Homo sapiens: one gene and its partners. The protein of the gene in region 7 purifies or fractionates together with the protein of the main gene of each other region. This does not show direct contact. Each region holds a gene or a part of one and is shown on either strand. Other genes may lie near its edges.

Evidence for each region.
Region 1: the proteins of COL1A2 (region 7) and FZD1 fractionate together in Homo sapiens (co-fractionation; one large-scale study listed by BioGRID). This does not show direct contact.
Region 2: the proteins of COL1A2 (region 7) and NTPCR purify together in Homo sapiens (affinity purification with mass spectrometry, with the first as the bait; one large-scale study listed by BioGRID). This does not show direct contact.
Region 3: the proteins of COL1A2 (region 7) and FOXO1 purify together in Homo sapiens (affinity purification with mass spectrometry, with the first as the bait; one large-scale study listed by BioGRID). This does not show direct contact.
Region 4: the proteins of COL1A2 (region 7) and LAIR2 purify together in Homo sapiens (co-immunoprecipitation; one large-scale study listed by IntAct). This does not show direct contact.
Region 5: the proteins of COL1A2 (region 7) and THOP1 fractionate together in Homo sapiens (co-fractionation; one large-scale study listed by BioGRID). This does not show direct contact.
Region 6: the proteins of COL1A2 (region 7) and ENPP4 fractionate together in Homo sapiens (co-fractionation; one large-scale study listed by BioGRID). This does not show direct contact.

What each region holds. Positions count from the first base shown.
Region 1 is NC_000007.14:91,268,825-91,271,826, reverse strand, and holds the end of FZD1 (frizzled-1), read right to left. Parts: 3' UTR 501-3,002; downstream 1-500. UniProt on the Homo sapiens protein: Receptor for Wnt proteins. Activated by WNT3A, WNT3, WNT1 and to a lesser extent WNT2, but apparently not by WNT4, WNT5A, WNT5B, WNT6, WNT7A or WNT7B. Contradictory results showing activation by WNT7B have been described for mouse.
Region 2 is NC_000001.11:232,971,111-232,974,610, forward strand, and holds part of NTPCR (cancer-related nucleoside-triphosphatase), read left to right. Parts: intron 1-3,500. UniProt on the Homo sapiens protein: Has nucleotide phosphatase activity towards ATP, GTP, CTP, TTP and UTP. Hydrolyzes nucleoside diphosphates with lower efficiency.
Region 3 is NC_000013.11:40,558,642-40,562,141, forward strand, and holds part of FOXO1 (forkhead box protein O1), read right to left. Parts: intron 2,220-3,500; coding exon 882-2,219; 3' UTR 868-881; intron 394-867; 3' UTR 1-393. UniProt on the Homo sapiens protein: Transcription factor that is the main target of insulin signaling and regulates metabolic homeostasis in response to oxidative stress.
Region 4 is NC_000019.10:54,508,509-54,511,187, forward strand, and holds the end of LAIR2 (leukocyte-associated immunoglobulin-like receptor 2 isoform a precursor), read left to right. Parts: intron 1-526; coding exon 527-577; intron 578-2,017; coding exon 2,018-2,061; 3' UTR 2,062-2,179; downstream 2,180-2,679.
Region 5 is NC_000019.10:2,802,503-2,806,002, forward strand, and holds part of THOP1 (thimet oligopeptidase), read left to right. Parts: exon of another isoform or gene 1-1,693; intron 1,694-2,108; exon of another isoform or gene 2,109-2,153; intron 2,154-2,513; coding exon 2,514-2,674; intron 2,675-3,500. UniProt on the Homo sapiens protein: Involved in the metabolism of neuropeptides under 20 amino acid residues long. Involved in cytoplasmic peptide degradation. Able to degrade the amyloid-beta precursor protein and generate amyloidogenic fragments.
Region 6 is NC_000006.12:46,139,989-46,143,488, forward strand, and holds part of ENPP4 (bis(5'-adenosyl)-triphosphatase ENPP4 precursor), read left to right. Parts: coding exon 1-421; intron 422-1,063; coding exon 1,064-1,234; intron 1,235-3,287; coding exon 3,288-3,500. UniProt on the Homo sapiens protein: Hydrolyzes extracellular Ap3A into AMP and ADP, and Ap4A into AMP and ATP. Ap3A and Ap4A are diadenosine polyphosphates thought to induce proliferation of vascular smooth muscle cells.
Region 7 is NC_000007.14:94,418,895-94,422,394, forward strand, and holds part of COL1A2 (collagen alpha-2(I) chain precursor), read left to right. Parts: intron 1-603; coding exon 604-657; intron 658-1,338; coding exon 1,339-1,392; intron 1,393-1,496; coding exon 1,497-1,550; intron 1,551-1,646; coding exon 1,647-1,754; intron 1,755-2,114; coding exon 2,115-2,168; intron 2,169-3,004; coding exon 3,005-3,058; intron 3,059-3,500. UniProt on the Homo sapiens protein: Type I collagen is a member of group I collagen (fibrillar forming collagen).

The DNA of each region.
Region 1 (3,002 bases), 3.2 Mb from region 7:
CATCTTTTAAAAAATGTGTGTGTAAAATGTACAAATCATTGCTATTTTAATACTTTGCTTTTAGAATTACTAGTCACACAAATATGCCATTCAACTAGTGTATTAATAATACCTCAAGAAAATGCAGTGTTATTTACATTTTATCATTCAAAAATACACCTCTTTAGAATACCAATGAAATAGTTTACTTAATCTCTTTTGGAAAATTGTATCTTATTCTTTCAAGCAATTTAAGGATCTGCTTGACTCATAAAACTGACGATGACCCACAGAATACTTATTATATGTTCATTGTGTACATGTACTTATAAATTGTATTTGAACTTATATATTATTAGAAAAATTTCTTTGAGAAACCCTTTTGTTTGACCTGTTATTAGGGTCCCAAACCAACCTATAAACAAAGATCCCCAGAGGAAGTATTATATTTGAATAGCAACTTGATTCTGTAATGGAGTAGAGACATTTGTCACCACAAAACATGATACAACTTAGAAAAATTACTCTAGAAATTGTGTTTTAATTTCCAGGTTCTAAGCAAGCTGTTTTGTCACTATAATTGTTAAAGTTTAACATATCCATTGTCAAAGGTATGACCAAAATGAATAAAAATATTTAAGCCCAAAAAGTTTAAGGGAACTCTGAGACATAATTGATGTTCAAGTACCATTTTTCAAATGTTAAGGGCTATTGGCATCTGCCAACATTCAAAACAAACATATATATCTTGAGAGTCATCAAAATAAACTTTACTTTTTTGGTACTTCCCTTGTAAGATCCCATTTTAAATGTAAGGACATTGAAATAAAAGCCTTCAATTTAAGATAGTATTGCAATTCCTTTTTAGTCATGTAACTAGATAATTCTTATATATATTCCATGTCTTATGTTGGTTCCTACACATTAATCCTGCAAGCCTTTGACATTAGTGTATTCTGCAAAGTATTCAATGACAATATCACCAGCGTCCACCTCTAGACATACGTACGACTACATTTTGCTTCTAATCTCTCAGGCCCCAGTTACACAGACTATTATAATAAGAAATGAATCAGAGATATCCAATGCCATGACACAGGTTTCAATTAATTGCATGTGCATTATATAAATTGTGGCCAATAGTCAATAGATGGATTAGAAAGCAAAAGCACACACAGTAAATATGCATCTTAAAAAAAATGTATACCAAGGTTGAAACATGCTATCAGGGACAGTGATCTGCGGCCACTCAAGTCCTGAAATGATTTATGATGTAGTCTATTATTTTTCTTAATTGGCCACCAACTCTTCATTGTAGTCTCCTTTCCTAGTTAAATGCTGGACATTAAGGTGATACAACTACACCAGAAGGCTTCAGTACTTACAGTGGAGACAAAAGGACCAGGCCAGTAAACTCAGGCTGACAAGTGACTACCATAGGACAAGCTGAAAAAATCCGGCCCGGCTCTTTTGCACGTGTTTGACACTGGCTGGCTCTGAAATTAAAAATATGACTCTCTGTCCCCACAAAGCTTAAGTGGAAAACTGCTTTTTTAGAAAGAAGAGCTTCAGAAGTCTTTCATACTACTTATATATTTACTCCAAAAGCTAAATTAAGTACACTGTGAGGGGGGAAATTGACCCCAATTTATAGCTGGTTTAAAAAAAAAATAGGCAAATCAAACCATCTGAAAATAGGGTTTGTCATGGAAACAGCAATGCTAATGGGACAGTATCCCAAGTAGCCTTATGGTTTTCCAGACACGTCCTATTTTGCCACCAGTATTAAAAGAAATAAAAGAATACACTGGTTTTCTATATGCATCATCATTTAGAATAAATTGTTTTCTAAGAATAAAGGCTGGTGGTGACTTAAAAATGTCTTCTAAAGCTATTTAACCACAGCATGTAAAACCTTTCTGCATCAAATTTATAGTTACATCATGTTAAGGACACCTCCAATAAGACTGCTTTAAAATATAGTTTTGGATAGCAATTAATGTCAAAAACATGTTTTTCCAGAAATTATCTAATTGAACTACTTAGTGAGGAGATATGTGTGAATTTGGCCTAAGAATACTATTTTTTTGTGTATGTCTATACAATAAACCCTCTATCTACTATATTATGTTAATGTAACAAAGAAAAAGGGAACACAAAATTGCATCTTGCTACTTAAAATCAAATGCTACATTTTTAGTAAGATCTAATTTTTTTGATTTTCCTTAAAATGAATAATGACTTATAAGACAATTGCATTGTAACAAGGAAAGTAACTCTATTGTATCAATGATCTTCATTTTAGTCCCTTGTCATTTTATCACAAAATGTTTTCATGGGAAAATTTAGTAAAGATATTTTTAACCTGTAAAGGTATTTGAGGTTTTCCATCTAGCATTTTCCATTTCTCATAACCATATTTCCATATTATGAAATGTAAGTAAACTTTACATCTCTATTTTATAAAAATTAATGCATATATACTTATGTGTATACTTATCTATATATACACATATATACACCCATGCATAAATTCTGACTAAGAGTAGACCAACTAGATAATTTATCTGGAGAAGGTTCCTTGAACGATTAAAAAAAGGGGTCTTCAGAAGCAAACAACAAAACAGCCTTACAAACCCAATTGCTGTTTAAAATGTTTATGAACACATAGCCAGTTAACCATTTATTGATTGCCTATTTAGGGTTTTGTAATATCCAAGATTATGGAAGAGATAAGACAATACCTCTAAAAAATATGAGAAAGGTGATGATTTAAAAATAAACCTCCATAATATAAAAAGTCATGTAAATTTATTCCCTGAAAGAAAAGAAAGCTTTAATATTAAAATTAGAGTTCTCTTTTAATCCTCTTTGAGTAAAGAAATAATTTGCAAACTTCTATTTTCTACTGTCATGAAAACAGATCTTTTCTTGGGACTTCACAAATGTCAATCACAACAATGCAAACAGAGTAATTCTTTGGAAAGACTGATCTGAGGGTTTAAGGGTAGACTTTTTTCATT
Region 2 (3,500 bases), on a different chromosome or scaffold from region 7:
CTTTCTTTCCCTGTTGTCCCTCTGTTTTCCTCTCAGTCAGATATTGCTTCTCCCCAACCCCTACCCTTAGTTTCTTTGAGTCAGTGGTAGCTGTGCTCTTGGCTGAGCTCTGCTCACACACCTCACTCCCCACCCCCAGTTTAAAAGCTCCCTGGCCCTGCAAGTGCCAAGTGAACAAGTCAGGCAGGCAGGGCCACTCCTATCAGGGGGAGTGGAGAGTGAGTACCCGTGAGCACCTTCCTCATGATCATTTTAATCACTGAGTGAAATGTCACCTTGGCCCACTGGCAGTATCCACATGTTGCCACCAAAGAATCCTGGAGTATCCACATGTTGCCACCAAGAATCCTGGAGTGTGGTGGTAAACAGCCATTAGGGTTAGACCAGCCAGACTTGGAAAAATGTATGCGCTTCTTTATTGATTTATTTATTCCTTCATTTGGTCAATAGTGATTGAGCACCTACTGTATGCTAGGTGTCATTCTAAGTCTTGGGATACTGTGGTGAACGAGACTGACCAAGGCGCTGCTTTCATGGAGCTTACATTCTAATGGAGGAGCTGAATACCAAAAATGTGAACAGATAAGTTAAGCAATTTCAGATACTGATAAAGGCAAAAATAAAGAAACCAGGCAATGTGGTAGTTGGGGGCAGGAGTAGCAAGGGCGATCAGGGAAGGTCTCTTCAAGGAGGTGACATTTGAGAGCCCTGAAAAGTCTGTGGGGTTCTTCAGAGTTTCATGTCGTCTTCTCTTATTTTACATTTTTGGTTGTGATTATAGAGTTTCCATGGAAATCAAGGCAATGAATAGTGAAAGATCATGAAAGAAAATTAGTTTTGAGGTCAGATAGCTTCTAGGCTGGAAGACCGGGAAATTGCTAGTGTTAGACTCCAGGGATTGGCTAGTTCCACAAACTAATCTAATCTAACAGTCCTAAGGAAGGATTGAAAGGAGCTGACTGTGATGCCCAGAAACAGACTTTGTGTCTTAGGATCATACCACATTTCTTCCGCTCTCTGAGACTCAAAATTATTCTCCAGGCAAGATAATCATTGCTTCTAATGATCTGTAAATAAAACAATTAGCTTTGAGTTAATTAAGTAAGAGATAGGGGCTGACATACCCTGTTTTTTTTTGTTGTTGTTGCTTTGGGGTTTGTGTGGTCCTTCTGTTTCAGTTTTATTTTATTTTTTATTTAACTTATTTTTTTGAGGGGGAGGGACAGAGTCTTGCTCTGTTGCCCAGAGTAATCTGTGCTGGGATTACAGGTGTGAGCCACTGTGCCTGGCCTTTTCCAGTTTTATAAATCAAGAACCTCATTTTCTTTTTTTCTGAGACAAGGTTAGTCTCTGTGGCCCATGCTGGAGTGCAGTGGCATGCTCTTGGCTCACTGCATCCTCTGCCTCCTAGGCTGAAGCCATCCTCCACCTCAGCCTCCCAAAAAGCTGGGACTACAGGCATGTGCCACCACACCTGACTCATTTGTGCATTTTTTGTAGAGATGGGGTTTCACCATGTTGCCCGGGGTTGATCTCGAATTGAAGAGCTGAAACAATCTGCCTGCCTCAGCCTCTCAAAGTGTTGGAATTATAGGCATGAGCCACTGTGCCTGGCCAAGAACCTCATTTTCTTTATCTGCAAACTTAGGTGTTGGATTAGATATATTTTTGGGTTCTTTCCATTGCTCACATGCAATAAAGTATCCGAATCCATTTTTGAGAGTGCCCTTCACATTCAGTACTTAGTCCATCGTTTAGGCACCTGTGAGGCATGATCTCTGCCCTCAAGAAAAACAGACCATGGGGCAATCAAAATCTAGGGGCAGGGAAGGGAGAGATCTATGTGAGCAGTGGTAGTGGAGAGGTGTCCAAAGGAAGGGGTTCTTGAGTTGGCTCTTGAAGGAGGAAATGGGAAAAAGAAGGGAGAACATTCCAGGTAAGAAAATGAGCTATGAAAAGGGGTCAGAGTCAGCGTCCCCTTGCTACCAGCTGAACATGCGTAGTGTGAAGATGAGACTGAGCCCGTGATATGGGGGAAATGTACCACACGAATTAGTAATATTATCTAGACTTATTCTTCACAATGTTGGGTGAACAGAGTACTTTCCAATGAATATGCATAGTGTGAAGATGAGACTGAGCTCATGATATGGGGGAAATATACCACACAAATTAGTAATATTATCTTGACTTATTCTTCATAACGTTGGGTGAACAGAGTACTTTCCAAAAACACCCGAGAACTCTTCCAGTTTTAGACAAGATAGAGTAGACACACTTGTGTTTATTTTTCCTGCTAAGGATGTTATTTATAATACAAGCATAAGAAGACCTGAAAAGTGAAGAGAAAAAGACAGACTGGCTAGGAACCTAAGGACCTAAGGAACAACACAACAGACACAACTGAAAATCATTTGTCATGCCAAGAATCAGGAATACCTAAACCTGAGTGAGGAAAGGCCATCAGCAGATCTCAACAGCAAGGTGACTCAGATAGTGGAATTATAGGGCAAGGATTTGAAAACAGCTATCATAAAAATGCTTCATAAAATTACAGATACACATGAAACAAATGAAAAATAGTCTCAGCAAGAACTGGAAAGTTTCAGCAAAAACCTAGAAGATAGAAGAATCAAATGAAAATTTTAGAACTATACAATAGCCAATAAAAAAGTCACTGAATGGGCTCATCAGCAGAATAGAGATGACAGGAGAAAGAATCAGTGAACTTGAAGGTAGAACAATAGAAATTACCTGACAAAGAGCAGACTTAAAAGAAAAAGTAATGAACAAAATGAACAGAGTTTCTGGGACCTGTGGGACTATAACAAAAGATGTGACATTCACATCATTGTAGTAACAGGAGATGAGTGTGGGGTTGAAAAAGTGTTTGAAGAAGTAATGGCTGCATTTTTGTCATATTTGGCAAAAGACATAAACCTACATTTTCAGTGAACCCCAAGAGGATAAACTCAAATTCATGCCAAGACATACCATAGTCAAACTTATGAAAATTAAAGTCTTGAAAGCAGTGAAAGGAAAGCAGCACCTTACCTATAGGGTAAAAACAATATGAGTGACAGCAGATTTCTCAGGAGAAACCATGAAGGCCAGAAGGAGGTGGTACATTTTCCAAGTGTTGAAACAACTGTCGACTCATAATTCTATAAGACATTCACAGATGAAGGAAAACTAAGAGAATTTGTCATAATAGAACTGCTCTAAAAGAATGGCCAAAGGAAGTTCTCTTATCAGAAAGGAAATGGTAAAAGGAGACCTGGAACATCAGGAAGGAAGAAAGAACAATGGGAAGAGTAAAACTCTGAGTGAGTGTAGTGGGCTTTTCTTCCTCTGTTGACTTTTGAAGAATTATGTTTGACAGTTGAGGCAAAACGATAACATTCTCTGATGTGTTAAAAAAAATAGCTGAAAAAAGAAAAGAAAGAACAGTACCTGAGAAGGAAAATAAAATCTCACTGATACAATCTTTGGCACCTCCT
Region 3 (3,500 bases), on a different chromosome or scaffold from region 7:
ACTTTCCTTGGACCAATTGGATATTTAGAAAAACCAAAAACACACACAAATACAATCTGTATCTACTGCTTATATACAAAACTTGAAAGCACACCAGGATCTGAAAATCTTTTCTGCAATTATATGGTGTAGTGAGTTTGGCACTTCATTGTAATGAAATTTCCAATGGCACAGTCCTTATCTACAGCAGCACATAACCTGCACACATTGGGCAAACATCCTGTACAGGAAAAATGTCTTTGCTGCCAAGTCTGACGAAAGGAAAAAAGGAGGGTTTTTTTTTTTGTTTTTTTTTTTAACCAAGAAAACTAAAAGGGAGTTGGTGAAAGACATCTTTGGACTGCTTCTCTCAGTTCCTGCTGTCAGACAATCTGAAGTACTTTTAAGTGTAACCTAGGAAAAAACACATACATACGCACACACACATACACACACAATGAAAATATAGCCAAATTAAAATCAATTCAACTTAACATGTTAAGAGTGACAGACATACTTAGGGGCAAAAAGCTAGAGCTTTCTCAAACAGCTCTAAAATCATTCAATGGGGAAAATTCTACTTTACAAAAAACCCTTCAGCATTTGATTTATATCAAATGTATTCATTTATTGAAGAGCTACTAAAAAGATGCAGCCATCGAACTGTCAAAAAGAAATCTTTAAAGCAGTTAAAGGAAGCTTCCTTCTGTGTAAGCTCAGAAGGAAAACTGTAAGCTGCAAAAAGGACAGAGAATGAATGATAAAAGATCCCTCTCTGCAAGGGACAGTCAGTTGACATCAAAGATGTGCTAACCATGGCAAGTTACTGTGTTCCTCGCTTTTAAGTTCTATTTTTCAAAAGGTCTTTTGATATTGGGGTGAACTTACCTGCTCACTAACCCTCAGCCTGACACCCAGCTATGTGTCGTTGTCTTGACACTGTGTGGGAAGCTTTGGTTGGGCAACACATTGTCAAAGTTAAAATCCAATGTATCTCCATCCATGAGGTCATTCCGAATGATGGATTCCATGTCACAGTCTAAGCGCTCAATGAACATGCCATCCAAGTCACTTGGGAGCTTCTCCTGGTGGAGAAGGCCCATTCTGCCATAGCCATTGCAGCTGCTCACGGAGGAGTAGCCCCCCAGGGCACTCATCTGCATGGGGTGGGGCAGAGGCACTTGTACAGGTGTCTTCACTTGGGTCAGGCGGTTCATACCCGAGGTGTGGGGCATGGTGCTTACCGTGTGGGGCAGGGGACGCCCGTTAACTGCAGATGTCTGCTGAGCATGTCCAGGGTGGGTATGGGAGCTGGGATTCATCATTTTGTTATGAGATGCCTGGCTGCCATAGGTTGACATGACCGAATTAGGGCCCATCATGACGTTCTGGCCCAGAACCCGGCTGTTGGGCTGGGCTACCCCAGGATCAACTGGTGTCATAATGTCATTATGGGGAGGAGAGTCAGAAGTCAGCAACTCCTTCAAGAGTCCAGGCGCACAGTTATACTGACTCATACCTCCATAACTCGACTTATTGTCCTGAAGTGTTTGTATAGGCATCTGGGGCAAAGGGCTCATGCTGGATTGGCCATATGTATATTTTTGGTAGTTTGGGCTGGGTGAATTCAAACTGGTGTTTGGTGGCGCAAACGAGTAGCACGGCGTCTGCTGCATCATGGTGCCAGGTGAGGACTGGGTCGAAACAGTTAATGATGTTGGTGATGAGAGAAGGTTGAGATTATCCAAAAGATTTTCCATGTTTTCGGGATTGCTTATCTCAGACAGACTGGGTAAAGTAGAGGCCATCTTTGCGGCAGATGGCGGGTACACCATAGAATGCACATCCCCTTCTCCAAGATCATCCTGTTCGGTCATAATGGGTGAGAGTCTCCCACTAATAGTACTAGCATTTGAGCTAGTTCGAGGGCGAAATGTACTCCAGTTATCAAAGTCATCATTGCTGTGAGAGCCAGGGCTTGCAGGCCATTTGGAAAACTGTGATCCAGGGCTGTCCCCAGCACCCTCCTGGCCAGACTGGAGAGATGCTTTCTTCTTGGCAGCTCGGCTTCGGCTCTTAGCAAATTTACTGTTGTTGTCCATGGATGCAGCTCTTCTCCTAGGAGATTTCCCGCTCTTGCCACCCTCTGGATTGAGCATCCACCAAGAACTTTTTCCAGTTCCTTCATTCTGCACACGAATGAACTTGCTGTGTAGGGACAGATTATGACGAATTGAATTCTGTAAGGCAAAACATCTTATTAGAAGTACAATACTTCTCTGCTTGCAAAACTTCCTATTCTACATGTATTACATGGAAAACAAGTAAAAAATCTTAAGAGTGTGTGCTACAGATTTCCATCTGAACAGTCCTAATGGCTCTGAAGCCACTACAAAAGATCTCAAATAGCACAGGAATAAATAGTATCTTATCTTAAAAACAATATCTGTGGCTGGGTGCGGTGGCTCACGCCTGTAATCCTAGCACTTTGCGAGGCCCAGGCAAGCGGATCATGAGATCAGGAGATCAAGAGCATCCTGGCTAACACAGTGAAACCCCATCTCTACTAAAAATACAAAAAATTAGCCAGGCATGGTGGTGCAAACCTGTAGTCCCAGCTACTCGGGAGGCTGGGGCAGGAGAATGGCGTGAACCTGGGAGGCGGAGCTTGCAGTGAGGCGAGATCGTGCCACTGCACTCCAGCCTGGGAGACAGAGTGAGACTCGATCTCAAAAAAAAAAAAAAAAAAATTCTATATCTTAATTTAATGAAGGGACAAAATTTAATAAAGAGTATTGTAAATACCTTCTTTTATACAGCTACATTTTATGGAAAAATCAAAGGAATTGGTTTTAATAACCGCTTAAATTTTGCTTAGCTACAATAGTACTCTGTATCAAAGTGCTATCAAAAACCCCTTCCATTCTACTATCCTTAAAACTACTGCCAATTCTCTTCAGTTTGAACCTGTGCCATTTACATAAAGAAGTTTTATATTACTGGGCCCACATACTTACAGAAACAAAAAAGACAAAAGAATATAGAATATATAGAATATAGAATATAGGCCAGGCATGGTGGTTCACACCTATAATCCCAGCACTGTAGGAGGCCAAGGCAGGCAGATCACCTGAGGTCAGGAGTTCAAGACCAGCCTAGCCAACATGGTGAAACCCCATCTCTACTAAAAATACAAAAATTAGTCGGGTGTGGTGGCAGGCGCCAGTAATCCCAGCTACTTGGCAGGCTGAGGCAGGAGAAGGAGACTGCGGTGAGCTGAGATCACTCCAGCCTGGGCAACAAGAGTTAAACACTCTGTCGCCAAAAAAAAAAAAAAAAAAAGAATATAGAAATATAGAGCTGATCAAGAATTAAAGGCCCCCAAATTAATAAGACTTGGATTCATTCACACCTTTAAAGCCCATTAAGCAAATACAAGTGAATGTAAGGAAAACAGAGTCATTGCTTTTGTATTTGAGAAAGCTGACCTGCCAAAAGAAATTTTTTTTTAATTCAAGTAG
Region 4 (2,679 bases), on a different chromosome or scaffold from region 7:
GGGATGAGTGTCTTTTCACACAGGATTGATGGTCCCATTTGTTATTCCTTTCCACTGAGCCAGAACCTGCCCCAGGCAATGTGCTTCTCCTGGTGTGGTTCATCTCCCACTGGGCAGAACACAGGGTCCAGGGATGGCCCCTGACCAGGGCGGGACAGTGCTTTGGGAAAACCTTTGGTATGTGACCACATGCACTCCTGTGTGTGCTCAGCCCGAGATGTCCTGGAGTCAAAGTCCACTGGAGAGGATCCAACCCATCTTCATGTCCCCCCAGGACCTCAGCAGTCCCCTGAGGTCAAGAAGAGCTTGTGGTGGGAGGAGCAGAGGGAGTGACCAGCCCCAGGGAGAATGGGGCAAGCAGCGGGGCTCTCCCCAGCCTCCTGTCCCCTGCCCCGTTTTCTCAGGAGTCTCGAGACATTGTCTGGGATTGCGTGATGGTCATGCGGCCTTTGGATGGGGGCTCAGGGTGGAGGAGGGCAGGTTGGTTGGGACGGGTTCTAAATCCTTCTCCTGCCCCTGTTTACAGAAAGCTCTGGAGGCCCGGACTCCCCGGACACAGAGCCCGGCTCCTCAGCTGGTCAGTAGCAGGGCCCTCAGCTGGAGGGGATTACAGGGGAATCTGTGCTGCGGATGCTGTTCCGGGTCCAGCCCTCTGCCCTGGGCTTGGAGTCAAGGTCTAGGGAGGCCACGGGAAGGCACCGACACCCACCAAGCTCTGGGAGGTCGCTAATGCTCACAGAGACCATAGCAGCAATGGTACAGTGATTGCAACCTTGTTCCATGCCAGGAACTGTGGAAAGCACTTAATGCAAGCACCACTTAATGGGGGAGGTACTAGTCTGATCCTCTAACTCCTCCTCCTCTCTAATATGCAAAACATAAATTAAAGTTTCGTGCTTAACGGCACAAGGCCATGAAGGGGCAGGGGCCACCCACCCGGGCAGCCCCACCCCAGACTTCCGGGCTCTCCCGAGCTCCACGCTGCCCCCTTGTGGGCGTGGCCTCACCATTCACCCCGCTCTGCACCTGATGGAGGGACTTAGAACTCACCTTCCAACCTGGGACACCCGGAGAGGGACGGGGCTGCTCCTGTTGGCTCTGTGATCTCCGGGGGAGGCCTGAACGGTGGAGTAAGGTCCCTTAAGAGGAGGAGGGCTCCACAGGGAGGGGACGTAGCTGTGAACGGTGACCAGGATGAAGCCATGAGGCTTCCCTTCCATCTGGCTCTGCCCTGGACTCTGTGATGGGAGAGAAGCTGCCTCTGGCTCTGCCCCTGGACTCTGTGTGATGGGAGTGAAGCTGCCCCAAGTCCCTGGGTCTCAAGTTGTCCATCTCCGCCTGTGATCTGTGACCAGAAACTGCCAGGGGAGGACACGGGGTCATAAGCCATTCGCGGCCCCTTCCCCACCTGGGTTTCTATCCCCAGAGTACGTCCTTGGACCTAGACCCGGTGACTGCCTGTGAGGCTCGGGCTGTGAGCTCAGGCAGGTGGGACCAGGGGCTGAAGCCACATGGGGAGGTGGGAGGAGCGATGCCGTGCTCCATCCGGACCCCCTCAGAGGCTCCTGGGCTGCTGGGGCACAGCGGGACATGCTCCTGAGTCCCGCAGACCTGGTTCAAGTCCAGTGTCTGGTTTTTATTAGCCTTCTGTCTGCGGGAATATCTTGCCTCTGTTTCTCTCCCTCTCTTCTTCTCCTTCCTTCTCTCTTCTCTCACCTTCATGCAGTGACATATAAAGGTCACGAGGGCAGACCCTCCTGCAGCCAGATTGCTGGGTTCATGGTTCAAATCCCGGTGGTTCTGCCACCCCCTGGCTCTATGCCTGACGGTGACTCACCCAAACCTCCTGTGTCCCAAATTCCTCATGTGAAACAGAGGCAATAGAAGAGCTGTCCTGGTAGAATCGTTTAGGGCAGACTTGAGTTCAGGTACACACGGCGCTGACATCAGTGCTGATTAGAAAACCCCAAAGGAGGGATGCTCCTATTAATACTGAGGAAGTATTTTGTCCTCACAGGGACTGTGCCAGGCACTGAAGCCTCCGGATTTGATGCACCATGAATGAGGAGAAATGGCCTCCCGTCTTGTGAACTTCAATGGGGAGAAATAATTAGAATGAGCAATAGAAATGCACAGATGCCTATACATACATATACAAATAAAAAGATACGATTCGCAATGGAGAATTTCAGACCTATCATTTCAATTATATTAAATATGTTCACGTAATGTATTACATATATAAGGAACATAATTATATAATAAAAATATGTTAACATATCACCACATATCACTATAATTATATTATATGAAAGATTTATTTACAATATATAGTACAATAAATTTCAGGTGTTATTATAATTAATAAACAGGTACAAACATAAATATATATTATCTATTATTTATAGATTATAATTATAATAGAAAAATTTTATATTTAATTATATGTTTATATGTAATATACATTATACATTATATATTATAGTGAATATATGCAACATATATTATAAGTATAAATCATATACAATTAACATTATATACATTAAATTATGATGTATATGTCAAGATTACATAATTTAATATATATTTGTTATATATTATACGTTTGCATAATACATGATACATATAACTATAAATAATATAAAAACTGTAATATTGCACATATATAATACATATGTA
Region 5 (3,500 bases), on a different chromosome or scaffold from region 7:
ACCAACACCTCACGACACCCACACCTCCCGACACCAACACCTCCCGACACCAACACCTTCCGACACCCCCACCTCCCGACACCGCCACCTCCCGATACCCGCATCTCCCGACACCACCATCTCTGGCATTAAGTTCCTGGTGCATTTTGGAGGGGACGCACCCAACCAGAGCAGAGACCTGTGAGTGTCCATCACTCGCACATTGTCATACACTAGTTGCCATGTCCATGGATGACTTCTGCCGCCCTCACCCTCTGGGCATCAGTCATCCTGCCGTGACTCCGAACCTTCCCTCCTTGCCTGTCTTCTTACTGATTTGTTTCTGTCCGTGTGCATGAGGCTTCTGTCTTATTCCCGGGTTATCATTCATTATCATTTATCCCAGTGCTCAAATCGTCCCACATGGACCCTCAGGAGTCCCTCCGAACAATCCCTGTGTCCTTGTAATGCACCTGCTGTCCTCTGAACCTGCTCTTACTGTGGGGCACATGGTACCGCAGGCTCGGCCTCTGAGCCCGCGCTTACTGTGGGGCGCGCGGTACCGCAGGCTCGGCCTCTGAGCCCACTCTTACTGTTGGACATGTGATGTCGCAGGCTCGTCCCATGCTCTCCCTGCCCCAGCCCTCAGATGCTCCATTTCTTGGAGGAGACCTGGCGCCTTTGAGTGGAGGGTGACTTAGGCACCGGATGTGTTCACCACTGCCAGGGAGCAGCATTCCTGGGCACCGTTAACAGTTAGGAAGCAGACACGCATCTCTGCACCACACATGGACACACACACTCTTCTATTCTGTGTCTGTATATCAAATCCACAAGTGCAGCGGGGCATGCCGGCACACACCTGAGGTCCCAGCCACTCGGGAGGCTGAGGCAGGGGGATTGCTTGAGTCTGGGAGTTCAGGGCCACAGTGAACGTGAACTATGCATTCGTGAACTATCCATTGCAGCCTGGGCAACAGAGCAAGACCCTTTTTCTAAAAAAATAAAAACTTCCAGGAGTCCACTTTGCAGCTTCTCTTCCAGTCCAGCGCTGCTGGGCCCCCCAGCTGTCTCCCTTGCTGTCCTTTAACTCCCGTCTCCGACCGCCAGCCGTCACTCCTGGGTGACACACTGTCGAGATGGAGAGCTGCTGTTTGAAGGCCCGTGGTCCTTGGAAAGGACGATGTGCAGGTCCCGGGAGGCCTCCCCCTCATGCTGCAGTCACTCGGCAGACAATTGCCAGGCCCACGCTGGTGCTGGGGTACAAACGGGAAGGCGGGGGCTCTGCCGGCCACAGGACTCTCAGCTCCCTCATCACCACCCACACCCACGGGCTGGCCTCCCAAAATTTCCCCCATCTGCCTCTGGCCCCCCAACCGGATCATTCTTTCCACCCTTGCCTCCCTGGGGTCCCCGTGAGCTCCCGATCATTCTTTCCACCCCTACTGCCCTGGGGTCGGGGTGAGCTCCCAATCATTCTTTCCACCCTGACCGCCCTGGGGTCGGCGTGAGCTCCCGATCGTTCTTTCTACCCCTACTGCTCTGGGGTCCGTGTGAGCTCCGGATCATTCTTTCCACCCTGACTCCCCTGGGGTCGGAGTGAGCTCCCGATCATTCTTTCCACTCTGACCGCCCTGGGGTTGAGGTGAACCAGTCTTTGCATTGAAGCTGCAAGCCTGAGGCACGGTGGCCCTGGCGTCTCCCGAGCCATGAGGTAGGAACCCCAGAGGGTTTCAGTCCGGGATGCTGCCGCCCCCACTTCTCTTGAGGCTGTCGGGCAGGGGCCAGGTGGGAGGGTGTGGCTGCCGGGCAGCGGGGTGAACTGTGTCCTGCCAGGGGTTTTGTGGGTGGAGAAGGGACAGCAGGGCTCCAGTGAGAAGCTCTGGGAGTAGGAATTGGGTCTCTCTGGAGGGACACACTTGAAAGTGGTTGAGCCGTGGGGCTGCGTGCTGAGATCTCAGCTCTGAGCGGGAGGCTCTGCCTGGGGGTGGTTCTTCAGGAAAAGCAAAGCAGGACCTCCCTCTCCACGTGGGGCCTCCCTCTCCGCCCAGGGCCCAGCGTGCTCAGCTCTCCTGCTGTTTTTGTCTTTGATGGGAGGCACTGCCTCTAACGCTGGTTTCCTTGTGCAGTGGCCGGGCCACCCTTCCCGCCACCCTCCTCCCTTCACACATGAGGTTGGTGACGGCGCCCTGGAAGCCCACGATGTCCGGGGGTTGGGCTGGATTTAGCTTTAACCTCTCTGGGGCAGGAGATCCTGCTCTGAGGATGCTGGGGGGTTTCCTGGTGGGGTTAGAGGCGGGACGTGAGAAACGTGGCAGGTGGTGGCCAGGCTGTGGGGGAGCCAGGGTATTTCTTGATGGGGTTAGATGGGGGATGTAAGAATTGCAGCGGGTGGTGGCCAGGCTGCAGCTGCTCGCTGAGGGCCCCCTTGTAGCTTTCCAGGCAGAGGGGAAGCCCACCCCTTCCCTCACACGCTGTGTGCAGGCTGTGGGCCCATCAGTCCTGTCAAAGCCACCCTGGTTCTGTCCCCATAGGAGGGCTCCCCGAGGACTTTCTGAACTCCCTGGAGAAGATGGAGGACGGCAAGTTGAAGGTCACCCTCAAGTACCCCCATTACTTCCCCCTCCTGAAGAAATGCCACGTGCCTGAGACCAGGAGGAAAGTGGAGGAGGCCTTCAACTGCCGGTGCAAGGAGGTGAGAAGGCACGGCCAGGGGGCCCCAGAACAGTGGGTCTGGAGCTTGTGGGGCCCGTCTGCTCCATGTGTGTGAGGCACCTCCAGGCTTTGCACTTGGATGGCCTCCCAATCTCCCTGGCCAGGCCCAGTGGCCAGCAGAGGCCTCCCTGTGGGGCTCTGCCGTGCCCTGGAGGTGTCTGTGCTGGGCTCCACCCAGACCCTGGGGCCACAGCTCAGGGCCCAGTTCATCCTTCCCAAGCTGAGCCTCCTGCTGCTGCTCTGAGCATCTGGCCGCGCACACGTCTCGTCCCTCCCTTATCTGGAGCCGCCCCTCAGGTGTGTCAGCCCAGATCATTCCTTTTGTCTTAAATGATGGTGCCCGGACCTGAGCCTGGGTCCACAGGTGGGTTGTGACTGGGCTATCTCGCTGTGACTGGCGTCAGACGGCCGTTCCCACAGGGACACATGTAACTGTCCACGGCGCCATGGTGTGGTCGGTCAGGTGGTCTCTGCACGTCTCCCATTCGCCATCTGGAACAGGCAGAGGCTCTAGGAGTGGGCCTCTTGGTCCCCTGACGACACCAAGTTGGTGCTTGTGCGGCTGGCAAAAGGGGGATACACGCTGATCACTGCAAAGGGATGGGCGGGCACTGATCACTGCAAGGGGACGGGCGGGTGCCCATCACTGCGGGGGGACGGGCGGGTGCCCATCACTGCGGGGGGACGGGCGGGTGCCCATCACTGCGGGGGGACGGGCGGGTGCCCATCACTGCGGGGGGACGGGCGGGTGCCCATCACTGCGGGGGGATGGGCGGGTGCCCATCACTGCGGGGGGTGGGGGACGG
Region 6 (3,500 bases), on a different chromosome or scaffold from region 7:
TGGCCTGGTACTGATGTACCCATTCACGATACCATCTCTTCCTATTTTATGAATTACAACTCCTCAGTGTCATTTGAGGAAAGACTAAATAATATTACTATGTGGCTAAACAATTCGAACCCACCAGTCACCTTTGCAACACTATATTGGGAAGAACCAGATGCAAGTGGCCACAAATACGGACCTGAAGATAAAGAAAACATGAGCAGAGTGTTGAAAAAAATAGATGATCTTATCGGTGACTTAGTCCAAAGACTCAAGATGTTAGGGCTATGGGAAAATCTTAATGTGATCATTACAAGTGATCATGGGATGACCCAGTGTTCTCAGGACAGACTGATAAACCTGGATTCCTGCATCGATCATTCATACTACACTCTTATAGATTTGAGCCCAGTTGCTGCAATACTTCCCAAAATAAGTAAGTAAACATTCAACTGAGGGATACTATTATTCGAATGGGGCAATTGATTGAGGGGGGTGGGTTGTATAAAAGAATGAAGCTCTAGCTTTTTGTAGTTTAGAACCATATACTCAGAGTGGGATTATATGTTTTTTTCCTCTTGTTTACAAGTTGAGAGCAGTTGGCCTATGGTTTAGTTATATGGCTTATGGTTTAGTTTCAAAGTGAGTATTTCTTTGCTTTTGATATATCTAATTATTTGCACTAGAAAAAGGAAATTTTTATCCTTAAACATCTTAGATTTTAGTGTGTGATATTTAGTGGTGAGGTACTTTCTTCTACTGATCATAGAAGTAGTAGTTAGTAGTAACATGTAATTAGTTTATGTTTACTTAGGAAGATACACCTGAAAAATGTCCCCTATCTGTAAAAGTCCACCATGGTAATCCACAAAGTGAAACAGATTTGTTAATGTTTGAGAAAGGTGTGTGTTTGTGTGTATCAGTCCCCAACACTCTCACATTATTATTGCTCTGTTTTTTTAAGAAGTGATTTAATAGATGACATTATCTATAATTTACTTCCAATTATTCTAGTTAGACATATTTTTTCCTTATCAATCATAACTTGTTTCCTTTGCTGTTTCTTTTTTTTTCTCAGATAGAACAGAGGTTTATAACAAACTGAAAAACTGTAGCCCTCATATGAATGTTTATCTCAAAGAAGACATTCCTAACAGATTTTATTACCAACATAATGATCGAATTCAGCCCATTATTTTGGTTGCCGATGAAGGCTGGACAATTGTGCTAAATGAATCATCACAAAAATGTAAGTATTTAGTTGAGATATTTCTGTTGTATCCTAGGAACAAATCATACCTTGTGATACTGTTGTGTTAAGAGGGTACTTCGATTTAAAGAAGTTCACACAGAATAATTAGTTCAATTTTCAACCAGATAATTCCCAGGTCTTCATTTAATAGCAATTTACAGTAATCACAATTTCACCTTTAAATTAGAAAGTAAATTTAAGAGTGAAGGCAAAGTCCTACTTTCTTTCCAAAACTGCAATTACTGTCAGTAATTTTCAAGATTCATTCTCTTGATTTATACAAAATAGAGAAGTAAAGAAACAGTAAAAGGGGAGAGATTAGCTAATCCTTGTTCTTTTGTGTGTTAAAAAAAATTTGTCTGAGTAACCCTAAGTCTTCCCCAGTAACAAAATCATTTACCTGAATGCTACAGCTATTTAGAACACTGGGCAAGAACCAGAAAGTAACCAAACAAATCCACCAAGTGAACAAAATAGATACATCAAAATCTCTCCTAAAAAATATATAGGGGAGAAAATGTATAGGGGTGAGTTACAGGCTTGCCTCAAACTGAAGCTTATTTATCCATATTTCATATTCAATTCAAATGCTTTTTTTAAAATCTAATTTTGTGGTCTATGGTAGGGGTCAGCAAACTTTTTTAGTAAAGGGCCAAATAGAAAATAGTTTAGGCTTTGTGGGCCAGCTGGTCTCTGTCTCAGCTACTCTACTCTGCCTTTATTGTGTAAAAGTAGCCATAGACAACCTGTAAAGAAATTGAAGTGGTGTGCTTCGGTGAAACTCTGTTTACAAAAAGGATGGAGGGCTAACCTTCGCTATGGGCTGTAGTTTACAGTTCCCTGATATATAGCAATTTAGAAGTATCAGGCAAGCATAGGACAGACTCAGAATCAATGAAGTTTGTATATTATTTACATCAATGTTATGTTGCATATTTGTTGTTGACAACCGAAAGTATAGAAAAGCATAGGAAAGAGAACAAAAACTATCCATAATCCCTCAGTATGGATTTATAGGCAAATGTTAATTGTGGACATTTCTCCCCATCCAATCTTTTTTCATATATATATTCTTTTCTAATATATATCTATATTATATATATTATATGTAATATAATTATATGTAATATATATAATATATATAATGTATATTATATATTATATATAATATATAATTACATATAATTATAATATATATTTTCTACATATATATGTAGAATATATTATATATTATATATAGAAAAATATATATTTTTTTCTAATATATGTGTGTGTGTTTTAATATTATTGAAATCTTTATATATTCTGCTTTTTGTCATATTGGTTATTTTTATGATGAAATATTTCAAACATACCACCAAAGAATAATATAACAAATATCAGTATACTCATCACCCAGTCACCCGTACTTAATATGAAAGTGGGAGCTTATTAAATACAACGGGTGTACGTTAAATGGCAACATTTGTTAAAATAAAGCTAAAAATTGGGAATTTATTATTGGAGTTGTATTAGGGACTATCATATGCTTTTCTTTAAGTCTAACTTTTACTGGGATAGAGTCACCAGATTAGACAACACATTCAACGCAAGATCCCTCCTGTAACAATTGAGATAGGTTAGGCTGCAGATTTTCTTTTTCTCCATTTGTTGGCCTTACTCACTTCTGTTCTTCCCAGTTACACAGAACCCTCAGCCTGACCACTGTCTTTATAACTGGTACTGCTTGCAGTGAGCTTTTGCAAACAGTGCTGAGATTGACAAGTGAAGTAATTGGTACTCGGGCTGAAAGATAAGTACATCAGGTTGACAAGTGGTGGTAAAGTCTGAGGGTATGACCAGTTGGGAAAAGGGGCATATGTGTGTGTTTGTGTGTGTATGTGAGAGAGAGAGAGAGAGAGGGAAATATGGAACATAGCTGAGTTGAAGAAATAGAAATTTTTATTTCTAGTCCCTTTCTGAAAGAATTGAATGTTTATATACTAGAAGCAAGTTATTTTGTCCTAAAAAGTCTGATCTTATTGACTGATGTTGTTTTGTTCTTTTTCAGTAGGTGACCATGGTTATGATAATTCTTTGCCTAGTATGCATCCATTTCTAGCTGCCCACGGACCTGCATTTCACAAAGGCTACAAGCATAGCACAATTAACATTGTGGATATTTATCCAATGATGTGCCACATCCTGGGATTAAAACCACATCCCAATAATGGGACCTTTGGTCATACTAAGTGCTTGTTAGTTGACCAGTGGTGCATTAATC
Region 7 (3,500 bases):
CTCCTATGCTTTAGGAAGCCGGGACCTCTAACAAGATTCTATAGTTATTCAAACCTACTCCCTAGAAATTTATCACCCAAAGAGCAGCCCCAAAGATTAGCTGTTAATGCCATGAAGATGCCAAAGATAATCCCATGACAGTCTAATTACCTTATCTCGTATGTCAGCCTCATGGGTCTTCTAGGCCACAGTCGGCCTGGATTCCTTTATTCACCTCTCCTTCAGAGCTGAAAACTGACTGTAGCACATCTGTAATAGTCTTTCTTTTGAATCACGTAGTTCTAACAGTTTCAAACAAGGCTACTCATTTGCTGCTCTCCAGGGAATTTTACAATAGCGGAAAGTTCAGATCTCCCAAATTTCTGACCTGCTATTGACTTACACATTTCCATAACCTTTATTACTGGAGTACCCTCCTTCTGAGAGTGGCTTCTAATAGTCTTGTTAATTAGAACCAAAATACATCAGAGGCCTTCTAGATATCCAACCAGAGTGCAGTGAAAGTGTTCAGTCACTGTATAAGCACAGAAAAAAAGAATGACAAGGTTCACTTTTGATGATACGGGGTGTTATTAATAAGACATGTTTCCTTTTTGGTACTAGGGTGCTCCTGGTGCTGTAGGTGCCCCTGGTCCTGCTGGAGCCACAGGTGACCGGGTAAGCATGCATTTTCACTAAGCCAACAGCAATATCTAAAATTTCCCGCCTTCCCTAGTCCCAAAGAGCCCCAGCAATTCATTTTTATGGCTTGGTATAAAGCCTACTTATTTAAAAACCTAGCTATTGTGATAGAGCAGCAGGAAACAAATGCTGTGTGTTTAAAATTACTTTTCCCTTCCTATAGATTTGCCAGCTATCTGATCTATACTCTAATCCCTAGCATTTGTTTTAAAGTCTCTCCATGTTGCGCATTAACAATATCCTAATGCACTGAGGCTTCTCAAAGCCTTCAATTATTACCAAAAAATCAATAAAATACATAGTGTGCCCATTTCACATTGAACTCTCCACTTAAAATAGATCTTATTTATTGTATTGCAAAGATTGCCACAAATAGATCAGCCCCGTGTCCATCTAAAAATTAAAATGTCCTCCTCCTGGTATTGTAGGCACTGATTTATAGTGTTTTCTCAAGTGTATAACCCATACTACTTAACCCCCAAAATGAATATAGCATTAAGTAAAAATCCACTTCATTTTACTCTGTGAGATGTGCGTCAGTTATCTCTTCCAAGGCAACTACAGACTCTGTCTGTCCACCACTGTTCTCTCTCCCTCCCAGTTCTTTGAGCATCTATGTCAGGCACATTAACAGATTCATCTTTGGTCCCATTATAGGGCGAAGCTGGGGCTGCTGGTCCTGCTGGTCCTGCTGGTCCTCGGGGAAGCCCTGTAAGTAAGAACCTGGGTCATTTTGTATACTCACACCTCACAATGTTTAGACATTGATGAACCTAGGATTGATAACACATTTTTAAATCCCTTCTCCCACCTAGGGTGAACGTGGTGAGGTCGGTCCTGCTGGCCCCAATGGATTTGCTGGTCCTGCTGTGAGTATCACATAATGAAGATTAATCTGAAAACATCCTAAGTTGGGGAGTAGAGTGGGTCGGAATACCAGAGCTGTAACTGTTTATTTCCAACAGGGTGCTGCTGGTCAACCTGGTGCTAAAGGAGAAAGAGGAGCCAAAGGGCCTAAGGGTGAAAACGGTGTTGTTGGTCCCACAGGCCCCGTTGGAGCTGCTGGCCCAGCTGTAAGTTGAATTCACTGGTGGTCCACACAGCAGCTACCCATTAGATCTTCCAATTAAATATATATCCGTCAAGTGCCTGCTATGCAACAGGGAATATACCAGATAGAAGATGGAAAATAACGGAAGGATTAACATTTGCACACTGCTTTACAAAGTATAAAAGTTTCATGAATATTGTTTTATTTTAATTCTCTGATAACCTCATAAGGGTGGTAATATTGAAGAACATTCTGACACAGATAGTCATTTTTTATTTCTATATTTTCTTCTAAGAGATGCGGGAATGATCCACTTGAAGAAAAGAGTAGCATTTACAAGGGTTTGTTTGTGATTTGACTCCATCTTTTTGTTTGCATTTAGGGTCCAAATGGTCCCCCCGGTCCTGCTGGAAGTCGTGGTGATGGAGGCCCCCCTGTGAGTATTTACAATGGACTCTCGCCGCTTTTCTTTTTTCAGAATCTATTAAGGACACTTGAAAGTTTTGAAATTTTTGGTAAATTTGGACTACCATGAGGAAACTTTTGAGATTCAAGTTCATTCTATTCAGAGCAATTCCGATATTGATGTTAACTTGAACTCAGCTGGAACTCAGTGTATGTTGCTATCAGCTCACTTGAGGTAATAACCAAGGTGGGCCCTAGGCAGTTTAATTGTAAAGTCGGAAAAAATATTCCTTTTGGCGTTTATTAATATGCCCCTTCTTCTGCCTGACCATGTCCTTCTCCTTTGCAGGCAATGCTATCACAACAATTCTCTAGAGACCCAGAGCTCCCCAAAAATGAACTTTACTGACTTCTTCTCTCACTGGACAGTGCTGAATTATCTAGGTCATTTGTTATTCTTTTGTCCATGAACACCATTACCTATTAAGTGTCCATTTCCTTACCACTCAGCCAGGTGGTAAAGATAGTTATTAATGTATACACATTAATGTGTAATAATGACATAGTGTCTTATCTTCATACCTTTACAACCATAAGATAATATGTCAGCATTTCAGAAAGGACCATCCAAACCTTAACGCAAAATATGGGCATTGCAACTGGTAATATGCTGGTAAGGAAGATGTGTGGAGAAGGAGGGCCTTCAGGGTCCTGGCTAAATAATGCCCTATATGAAGCTGCCTACCTCCTACTCCTTGGTCTATTCCTGGTCACATGTACTGATTTTCCAAAACAAAGAAATTCCCATCTTACCCAAATTCTTGGAGTTGATGTTGACTGTGGAATTCTAATGTGCTTGGCTCTTAGGGTATGACTGGTTTCCCTGGTGCTGCTGGACGGACTGGTCCCCCAGGACCCTCTGTAAGTAAATCACTGTAAACGTGTCTTCATTTACTCTAGCCAAAAGGCCTGGCTTCTGATAGGAAACTGGTAAGAAACTCTTCATGAAAACACATCACTAATATTCGCTATTACTCTCCTGGTCTGAAGTCAGCTTTTCTGAACCATTAAGGTATTTCATCACAAGTTATATTTTATAATATCAGTTTAAGAGGCTTTTATTCATGTGAACACCAGTCCCCTTTCAGGGGCATGGTCTTTTTGAAAAAAAAAAAACAAAAAAACGAACAGTTTTAGCCACATATCAGATATTTCTATATCTAATTATCCTTTATGGCTAACATTCTGCCTCCATTGTTAAGGTATAATTGTTCCTGAATTTAAAGGTGGTTTGGCCTCTAATTTAATTCTGATTCAGACTCTCCTGTCAGGACTCAAGAAAATTTAATTAATTACCAAGGAT